Linked DNA regions of Homo sapiens: region 1 is linked to region 2. A link means that fine-mapping ties the variant in region 2 to the expression of a gene that starts in the linked region. Tissue or cell type: monocytes after LPS. Region 2 holds a variant in brackets; the other region holds the start of a gene. All regions are shown on one strand. Distances are between the middles of the regions.

What was found. PIP is the estimated chance that this variant, and not a neighbour inherited with it, causes the effect.
Region 1: it holds the start of CDAN1, and the variant in region 2 is fine-mapped to the expression of CDAN1 in monocytes after LPS (Quach 2016, PIP 0.93).

The regions. Positions count from the first base shown.
Region 1 is chr15:42,734,972-42,740,166 of GRCh38, reverse strand. CDAN1 (codanin 1) reads left to right here and starts at 3,039. Exons shown (of 28, transcript NM_138477.4): 1 at 3,039-3,154; 2 at 3,387-3,865; 3 at 4,089-4,292; 4 at 4,488-4,657; 5 at 4,793-4,906; 6 at 4,989-5,067. The coding sequence starts at 3,065. TTBK2 (tau tubulin kinase 2) reads left to right here. Exons shown (of 15, transcript NM_173500.4): 15 at 1-1,437. It overlaps TTBK2-AS1 (TTBK2 antisense RNA 1), which reads right to left and starts at 1,049. Exons shown (of 3, transcript NR_186317.1): 1 at 932-1,049. RefSeq lists silencers at 2,853-3,102, 3,293-3,432, 3,523-3,812.
Region 2 is chr15:43,638,186-43,643,185 of GRCh38, reverse strand. CATSPER2 (cation channel sperm associated 2) reads left to right here. Exons shown (of 13, transcript NM_172095.4): 5 at 2,690-2,862; 6 at 3,388-3,543; 7 at 4,158-4,282. It also overlaps the pseudogene PPIP5K1P1-CATSPER2. Among named protein-coding and RNA genes, the nearest start is that of CATSPER2, 8.2 kb to the left of the region's middle. RefSeq lists enhancers at 3,981-4,510, 4,561-4,690. The variant T/C (reference allele first, on the strand shown) is at 2,683.

The DNA.
Region 1 (5,195 bases), 900 kb after region 2:
TGACCATGCCTCCCAGGTACCCTGGCTCTGGGTTCCTTGACCTAGGGAACAAGATTGGATGAGGCAGATCTTTGAGCCCATGTGACTATAGAATTTGCTGATGATATAATTTTACAATAACAATGGATAGGAATTTTACCTCTCTTTTTATTAGTTTAATATTATTTAATATTATGTACATAAGTGTTCACTCGCCTAATTAAAAACATTGAGTAAACCAAGTTTTTATATAGACTACCCTTGCCATATGATGCTCTTTTTCTCTAATAATATGCAGTTTAAATCCTGAGGAATCAATGCCCAGCATTTCACCACATCTGAACTCTGTGTGGGCATTCTTCACTCGCCTACAAGGGGTAAACAAGGCTACCAGAACTTGAATTTGACTTATAGGGAGCTACCCAGGAAGGGGAAAGCCCTTGGGACTTTTTCCAAAACAATCTTCTATTTGAACTGTTCATCAGCCAAAGTAGTCCACTGAGGTGACAAAGCTTTCAGAAATACAAAGATGGGAAGATAAAGGTAACACTGGCCCACTTGGGGCTTTGACATTGGATTGGGTGGACTGAATAAACACAGCCTAGGTGGCCTGGGCTTGAGCCTCACTTACTTCTCCTTGATACATAGTTCCTGGTCTACCTTCTGACCCTTTTTCTAAAATAGCCAGTGTCTATTTCACTAGGCCATTTACTTACAAGTTCCCAGCTTTTAGGGAAAAAAGAGGGAGGGGGGAGCATCTAGTTTTGAATTAGATATACATCTTAGAAGTAATGAGCTATTGGCAGCTGTTAAATCAGATTCAGCCACAAACCAGAATTCTTTCTTGTTGAACAAGACCAATGAGTTAGATGACTTTAATAATTCCACTTTTCTCTCCCTCTCTTCTCCTCTTCCTGAAATCAGAGAGATGAGAAACTACTCTTTGAAATACCTCCAGAGGCGTTTTATTGTGTTCCTTTCCCCTCCAAGCAGCTCCCTTTATACAATTTTGCTCAGGCAACCAAGGACAGAGTATCGGCAGAAACATGGAGTGCTTTTGTATAGGCCACCTGTACATAAAAGTGTAATTATTTATTTAATTTTCCCATTTGTATCATATTAAAGCTTTGTACAGTGTTTTAAGTTCTGTTTTAAAATTATTTTGTATTTTATTTTTATAACCTAGTAATAAAATATTCATTCCGCATGCAAAATCTAGTTCTGTTTGTGTGATGGTCTGGATTTCAAAAGTGGAAAATATTTTTCTAATTTAATAAAGTTATTGAATACACCAGATGTTACAAGATCAACGGGGAGCAGATAGTGTTACTGTAAATGCAGTACCACATCTAGAAGTTCCCTAGAAAAAGCAGCCCAGGACTGAATAGAAGCTAGGTGTTAAGTGTCCCTGCAGTTAGGAGATGTTTTCCTGTAATAAAATTAAAATATTAAAAGCTCCTTTTTAGTCCATTATTCTGTCTGGCTGGAGGTACTTTTTCCTTCTCCATAGGAAATACCCCTTCTGCCACTAGAGAGATTCCTGCACCCCCACCCTCATCCTTCCGCCCGTAACCTTCCTTTGAACCAGAGCAACTCTCAGGAGGCATTCACAAGGGCACTGCCTCACCCCTCCTGGTTTGGTTTGACATGGAATGTTCGTGCCATCTGTTTTTCTCCGCTTGGATTCCCTTGCTTGATTTGTCACTGAGCAGCAACCTTCAAAATCCTCTCTCAGGTTTTTTTGTTTTGTTTTGTTTTTGAGATGGAGTCTCGCTCTGTCACCCAGGCTGGAGTGCAGTGGCGTGATCTTGGATCACTGCAACCTCCGCCTCCCAGGTTCAAGCGATTCTCCTGCCTCAGCCTCCCCAGTAGCTAGGACTACAGGCGCGTGCCACCACGCCCAGTTAATTTTTGTATTTTTATTAGAGACACGGTTTCACCATGTTGGCCAGGATGGTCTCCATCTCTCGACCTCGTGATCCGCCCACCTCTGCCTCCCACTGCATTCCAGCCCCGGGGGTGACAGAGCGAGACTCCATCTCAAAATAAAATTAAATAAAGGAGATTAAGAAATTACTCAGGCCGGGCGTGGTGGCCCACGCCTATAATCCCAGCACTTTGGATCTGCTGCCCTCTCCCGGCCAAAACATTAGCTGGGCTATAGCCCTAGGGAGGCTGAGTCGGGAGGATTGCTTGAGCCCAGGAGGCCAAGGCTGCAGTGAGCCGTGCTCACGCCACTGCACTCCAGCCTGGGCAACAGAGCAAGACCCTGTCTCAAAAAAAACAAAACAAAAACAAAAAACACCAAACCCAAAAATACAAACCTCAAGCTCCCAGAAGCTAATCATGATATGCTTACTGACATCTAAACTGCAAAGTAGTTGAAATATTAACCTCATGTAAACCCACTTAAGTAAATAAAGCTACATACAAGCAATTCTGTGTGCAGGGTGGCCCGAGGCACTTTAAGGGTTGTGGCTTGGGGATTATTAAGAACCTCCTAGAAATAATTCTTTCCTAAATGGTCAGTTGATGGTGAGCGCTGAAAAGCCGATGGGTACTGCTCGGCCAAGGGATTGAAAAATCGGCCTTTGAGAAGAACAAAGTCAAAATGAAAGATTAGATTATAATTTCTCTGGGGTGGTGCCAGTTGGATCTAGGAAACTTAAACTCGTGAAAGAATGTGCTTAGAGCAGAAGATAGAAGCTGGTGGCTGTCTCTGCTCCCCTCTACCTCTCTCCCGGGTCCTGGGTCTCCCTAGAGGGGCGTCCGACCCGCGGCAGCCCCACTCCCAGCTCGAATCCCTCCCTTCAGGTCGCTCCAGGGCGGGCAGCCAAGGTGGGCCTCCCCAGGCGCTGTGATCCACATTTCACCTCCTAACAACCGGCCTCTCGGCCGGGGTTGAGGACTCAGCGAGGCCTTGACTCCGTGGGTCTGGGCAACAGCCGGCTCCGCCCCGCCCCGCCAGCCGGGTCCCTCCCCATCCCGCGACCCAACGGTCGTTCCCCGCCGCCGGCCCCGCCCCTCCCTGGCCGCCCGCGGCGCGCCGGCGCCTGCGCAGTCGCCCCAGAGCGCCCCGACCGGGATGGCGGCCGTTTTGGAGTCGCTGCTGCGAGAAGAGGTGTCGGTCGCAGCCGTCGTGCGGTGGATCGCGCGCAGCACCCAGGGTTCGGAGGTAACAGCGGTGACACGCCCCCAGGTCTGACTCGAAGCCGGTTCCCGCAGTGGAGTCCAGCCCTCCAGTCCCCTTCCTCTAGGGCGCCTGGCTGCCAGCCGGGCCGAGTGCACTCCAACTGGGCGCCGCTGCCCGGGCCGCCCACCCGAGGCGCGCCCTACGGCCCCGGCTGCTCACGGCCCGCGGGCCGGCGGCTGACCCTCTCGCCCCTCCACCTGTGCTTCTGCCCTAGGATAACGCTGGGGAGGCGGCCGCGCTGAGCTCACTCCGGGCCCTGCGGAAAGAATTCGTACCGTTCCTGTTGAACTTCCTGAGGGAGCAGAGCAGCCGCGTCCTCCCGCAGGGGCCCCCGACCCCCGCCAAGACCCCGGGCGCCTCGGCAGCCTTGCCAGGGAGGCCGGGAGGCCCGCCGCGGGGTAGCCGCGGGGCGCGCAGCCAGCTTTTCCCTCCGACCGAGGCCCAGAGCACCGCTGCCGAGGCCCCTCTGGCCCGCCGCGGGGGCAGGAGGCGGGGCCCGGGGCCGGCCCGCGAGCGTGGAGGCCGCGGCCTGGAGGAGGGGGTCAGCGGGGAGAGCCTGCCCGGAGCCGGGGGCCGGAGGCTTAGGGGCTCTGGCAGCCCCAGCCGCCCCAGCCTCACGCTGTCTGATCCGCCAAACCTCAGCAACCTGGAGGAGTTCCCTCCCGTAGGCTCGGTTCCCCCCGGCCCTACAGGGTGAGACTCAGCTCTCATGCAGGAGATGGGTACCACGAAGGCTCTGGGGAGTCAGTCATTCGAGCTCGGCGCTCCGCAGTGGAGCGCCAGGATGGGTAGAAGGCTGGGGGTGATGGTGAGGGTTTTTGTGGGGTTTTTTGGCAAGAGGTCTAGCTGTTGCGGTGGTGGAGGGGAGATGTTTGAAGATAGGAATTTGAGAAAAACCTGTGGCTACTCTCAGCAGGACGAAGCCTTCTCGCAGGATCAACCCAACTCCGGTGAGCGAAGAGCGGTCACTCTCCAAGCCCAAGACCTGCTTCACCTCACCCCCAATCAGCTGTGTCCCCAGTTCCCAACCCTCAGCCCTGGACACTAGCCCTTGGGGCCTTGGCCTTCCCCCAGGGTGCAGAAGTCTGCAAGAGGAGCGAGAGATGCTCAGGAAGGAGCGGTATGGCCTGGCCGCTCCTGGGGATATCGGTTTCCTCGCTGTGGGGGATCTTCAGGGGTTTTCCCTGAAATTGATTTCCCTCTTGGGGACTCTGGGTTTGTCTCCTGGGCTGTTGGTATCTTCTCTGGAGTGACCTGAGTGTGGCCGTAGCAGGGAAGCCAAGCTGACTGCTCATGAAATTTCTTTATTCCATAGCTCTAAGCAGCTGCAGCAGTCACCTACCCCCACCTGTCCCACCCCAGAATTGGGGTCGCCCCTCCCCAGCCGGACAGGAAGCCTCACAGATGAACCTGCAGACCCTGCCAGAGTGTCTTCCCGCCAGCGCCTGGAGCTTGTAGCCCTTGTTTACTCCTCGTGCATTGCTGGTGAGTGAGAGCGGAGGGAGCGGGAGTGGAGACACTTGTAGAACTTATGGGTAAGAGAATTGGTAAGGCACTTGGAACTGAGCCTTGGCTCCAAATGGTGCCCATACCATGGGCTTTCTTTTTGTATCTATCTAGAGAACCTGGTACCAAACCTCTTCTTGGAGCTTTTCTTCGTCTTTCAGCTCCTCACTGCCCGGAGGATGGTGACTGCCAAGGACAGCGACCCTGAACTAAGTCCAGCTGTCCTAGGTCAGTGAGCAAGCCTCCTTTTGAGACATGGGGTCTAGAAACGGGACCGTTCTTAACTGACAGCTTGGTACTGTCCTTCTAGATTCCCTGGAAAGTCCACTGTTCCAAAGCATCCACGATTGTGTCTTCTTTGCAGTGCAGGTTTTGGAGTGTCACTTTCAGTGAGTTTCCCTGGCTGAGGCATTTGGGCCTCATTCTCATCATCTGCTTAGCTCTCTGGCTGCTTGGGATATATGCTGGTGCTTAACACAGGGGCAGTGGTCCTGGACCTTCTCCTACCTATAATCTT
Region 2 (5,000 bases):
ATTTACCTGGTATTCTGTGAGGTGACCTACTGTTGTTTTTCTAGAATAGGGAGTAGCAATAGATGACTGTTCATGGTGAACTCTACCCTGTAAAACAGAATTATATATTTGCCTGACTTGCTTGATCAAATGGCTACTGTCTGTCACCCTGAGAAGAATATTGAAGCATAGATGTTCACTGCTACTTCACTTCACTGGCTAAGATTCCTGGGTAGACTTCACTGGGCTCCTGGTCTCTATTTCCATTAAGACTCCTTTGCCTTGCTATAGCAGCCTGAAAAATTCCAAGAATTTTAAAAAGTTATTTTTCATCTTCAGAGAGGACACATTACTTGATGTAGAGTGGAGGCAGTCACTTCTGCACATTCTGTGCTGCTGAGGCAATTTCTGCTATTCGTTCCTCTGAACTTCCTTGGGTTTGTTTAGCTTCTATAAAATTATTCATTTTTCCAGAGAGTAAAAGTGCTACTGCTTCTATAATTTGGACTTCCCTACTTAAACTATTTTAAACTACTCAAAACTATATTCTGCTTTACAAGAGCCTTATTTTACTTCATTGCTCTGTTTGGGTTCCTGTTTTGCAAGGGCAAAAACTGAATAAAAATTATAGCATTCTATTTTCCAGCCACAAATGTGGTCCTCAGCTCTTTCTAATTATATAATCCCATGCTCCTGAGAGCTAGAATTTATTGTTAAGTGAAAAAATTTTGTATTTTATTGAATTTAAGCTGTCATCAATGGTGAAATTCACTGTTTACCAATAAGAAATAAAAATCATGCTCAATTAAACTGGGACACATCGCTGGTTGTAAAATGCATCCTCACTTTGGGAGGCCGAGGTGGGCAGATCACGAGGTCTAGAGATGGAGACCATCCTGGCCAACATGGTGAAACCCTGTCTCTACCAAAAATACAAAAATTAGCTGGGCATGGTGGCGCATGTCTGTAGTCCCAGCTACTTGGGAGGCTGAGGCAGGAGAATCGCTTGAACCCAGGAGGCGGAGGTTGCAGTGAGCTGAGATTGCACCACTGCACTCCATCTTGGCAACAGAGCGAGACTGTGTCTCAAAGAAAAAAAAAAAAGCATCCTAATTTCATGTATGTTAAAATGTGAAAAATTGTCCGTCTTAGAGAAACTTACGTGAAAGAAAAACTTACAGAAGTACAGAGCCTAAATAAGCATAGGAGTGCTGGGTGCAGTGGCTCATGCCTATAACCCCAGCACTTTGGGAGACCAAGGCGGGCGGATCGCTTTAGCCCAGCAGTTTGAGGCCAACCTGGGCAGCATAGGGAGACCCCATCTCTACAAGTAATTTAAAGAAAAAATTAGCTGGGCATGGTGACATGTGCCTGTGGTCCCAGTTACCCAGAGGCTCTTGAGCCCGGAAGAGCCAGGCTTCCGTGAACCGTGATTATGCAACTGCACTCCTCCAGCCTGGGTGACAGAGTGAGATTCTCTCTCAAAACAAGCATAGAAATAAGTATAGCGTAACTCCATTGGTTTTTAGAAGGGGCCAACCTCTGTAAAATTCTAGGGATGATTGAAGTATTGTTCTGTTCTTTTTGTCTGGATTCAGTTCAGCATCAGGATGACTTTAAAGCCAGAGCACCACAATGTTGATTTCTATTTAGCTCTTAAGCCTATTATAATCTGAGTGTTTTTTTTTTTTCCAAGGGTATGGCATACATCCATTCATTGTATAAAAGAGATGAAGAAGGTTGAAAGAGAAAGGCAATGAATTAAGGAATAGCAATTAGTAAATAATAGGTTTCGGCCAGGTGTGGTGGCTCACGCCTATAATCCCAGCACTTTGGGAGGCTGAGGTGGGCGGATCACCTGAGGTCAGGAGTTTGAGACCAGCCTCAACATGGAGAAACCCCATCTCTACTGAAAATACAAAATTAGCCGGGTGTGGTGGTGCATGCCTGTAATCCCAGCTACTCGGAAGGCTGAGGCAGGAGAATTGCTTGAACCCCGGAGGTGGAGGTTGCAGTGAGACAAGATCGCACCATTGCACTCCAGCCTGGGCAACAAGAGCGAAACTCCATCTCAAAAAAAAAAACAAAAAACAAAAAACAAAACAAAACAAAAGTAAATAATAGGTTTCTAGAGAGGAAATTTGCATTCAGTTTGCTTTGCAGAGCAAAATTTTAGGCAGGGAAGAAAGGAAAAGTTTTAAAAGAAAGCTAACAGAACCAAGTGATTTATTGTTATAATTCGATATACCCTAATGATTGTGGCTTGTTTCTACATTCGTTATAAAGTAGTTCAGATATCATGGCCCTGTATTTTCATTCTGTTCTCAAGACCCATTGCTTTCTTGTGAACTTTGGGACTGAGATAACAGTACAGTAGATGGGGGTGGGGTTTGGAGGTAGGGGTAATTAAAGAGAGTACTCTCTTAGTAGCTGTGTGAGCCCCAGAGTGGATCGCAAGTGACTTGTAGCTGGGCAGACATAACTATATGAACAGATTGGTTGTGGCTGTGTTTTATGGTCAATTCTGTCCTTCCCTGTATTTCACAGGTTGAAGCAACAGTGTTAAGAAGAGAAACTCTTAACTCTTAACACAGTGTGAAGAAAAATGGAACAGTAGTGGGCAAAACTGTGGTTTATAAGTGTGTTCATTCTCCATCATTCGGTTTCCAGCTTCCTTAACTTTTATTCCTCCTTTGCTCTATC[T/C]TCACAGAATTGCTGGAATCCACAAATACCAAACTATGGCCATTGAAGCTGACCTTGGAGGTGGCAGCTTGGTTTATCTTGCTTATTTTCATCCTGGAGATCCTTCTTAAGTGGCTATCCAACTTTTCTGTTTTCTGGAAGAGTGCCTGGAATGTCTTTGACTTTGTTGTTACCATGTTGGTAAGGATAGAGATCCTGAGGGTTCGTTTAGTGGGATGAAGAATGTGCCTAGGTGAATCGAAAGAACAAGTTAACATGATAATAGGAAGAAACAAAAATTTACTTAACTTCTTTCTTTTGATTTTTTTTCCCTAAAACTAAACATCAATCATTGCAGGAGTTGTTGGTATTAGGAGCAAAGTAGACTAACTACAACATCAATGCCAACAAGAGCATCTGCCGGTTACTGAGCACTTACTAAGTGCCAAGCATTATTTTAAGTGTTTTCCTTACATTATCTCATTTATGCTCCACAACAACCCAATTAAATAACCATGAATTTTATCCCCCTTTTTATATCTGAACAAGTTTAAGTATAGTGTTTAAGCAACTTAATATAGAAAGGCTGAATAGTAAGCACTTCTCAGAGAATGCTATTCAAGGGATAACGCCCAGGGAACAATGAAGAGGATAAGATGAAGAAGCTGCAATTCTGCCTGGGTGCCTTGGGGTGTATTTTACTTATAACCTGTGTGTTTTCCACAGTCCCTGCTTCCCGAGGTTGTGGTATTGGTAGGGGTAACAGGCCAATCGGTGTGGCTTCAGCTTCTGAGGATCTGCCGGGTGCTGAGGTCTCTCAAACTCCTTGCACAATTCCGTCAAATTCAAATTATTATTTTGGTCCTGGTCAGGGCCCTCAAGGTGATTTGACTGTTGCAAGCTAAAGCAGGGGGCAAGGTAGATAAATGTGAGGGCTTAACATAGAATATGAAACAAATTGGCCGGGTGCGGTGGCTCACGCCTGTAATCCCAGCACTTTGGGAAGCCGAGGGGGATGGGTCATGAGGTCAGGAGTTCGAGACCAGCCTGACCAACATGGTGAAACCCTGTCTCTACTAAAAATACCAAAAAAAAAAAAAAAAAAAAAAAAAAATTGCCGGGCTTGGTGGTGTGTGCCTGTAATCCCAGCTACTCAGGAGGCTGAGGCAGAAGAATCACTTGAACCCGGGAGGCGGAAGTTGCAGTGAGCCGAGACTGCGCCACTGCACTCTAGCCTAGGCGACAGAGTGAAACTCCGTCTAAAAAAAAAAAAAATATATGAAAGAAATCTGGGTGGGTCAAAGAAGGCAATGAAACGTCCTGTGAAATGTTATTGGATGAGAAGGGGCTGGGGACAGGTGCCATGGTTCAAAGATGACTGGGTTCAGCAGTGCAAGAGAGGGTTTGGTGGGGGATTGCCAGGTGAGCTTGACTGGGCTGTTGGTGGAGATCAGCCTAGTTTGGCCCACATCTGACATGAGAGTTATGGCCTCTAGAGCATGACCTTCCTCTTGATGTTGCTGCTCATCTTCTTCTACATTTTTGCTGTGACTGGTGTCTACGTCTTCTCAGAGTACACCCGTTCACCTCGTCAGGACCTGGAGTACCATGTGTTCTTCTCGTAAGCAGAGCTGGGGACAGCTGGGTGAGGGGAGAAAATTTGGCTAAGAGACCAGGAAGCTTGTCCAAAGTATAGTAATATAAAAAGTGCAGTCTATTCCAAGAAACTGAAATAGAACACAATAGGGAGAGGGAAAGAGAAAGCAAAAGAATAGTGAATGGTATTAGCTCTGATCTTGAGGTTAGGGCAGCTAGTTCCATGTTTATTCTGGGTTTTGCAAATTCAAACCACACTGTCATCAGGCATCTTTAAATAGCAGTACACTCCAGTGGTTAAGCTTGGTTTCTGTGACTCAGTTACCTCTTTTGAAAAATGGGGGCAGGGCGCGGTGGCTCACCCCTGAAATCCCAGCACTTTGGGAGGCCAAGGCGGGTGGATCATGAGGTAAAGAGATCGAGACCATCCTAGCCAACATGGTGAAACCCTGTATCTACCAAAAATACAAAAATTAGCCAGCCGTGGTGGCAGGCGCCTGTAGTCCCAGCTACTCGGGAGTCTGAGGCAGGAGAATTGCTTGAATCTGGGAGGCAGAGATTGCAGTGAGCCGATATAGTGCCACTGTACTCCAGCCTGGCAACAGAGCAATACTCCATCTCAAAAAAAAAAAAAAAAAAAAAGAAAGAAAGAAAAAGAAAAGAAAAATGGGAATAGGCTGGGCACAGTGGCTCATGCCTATAATCCCAGCAGTTTCAGAAGCCAAGACAGGTGGATCACCTGA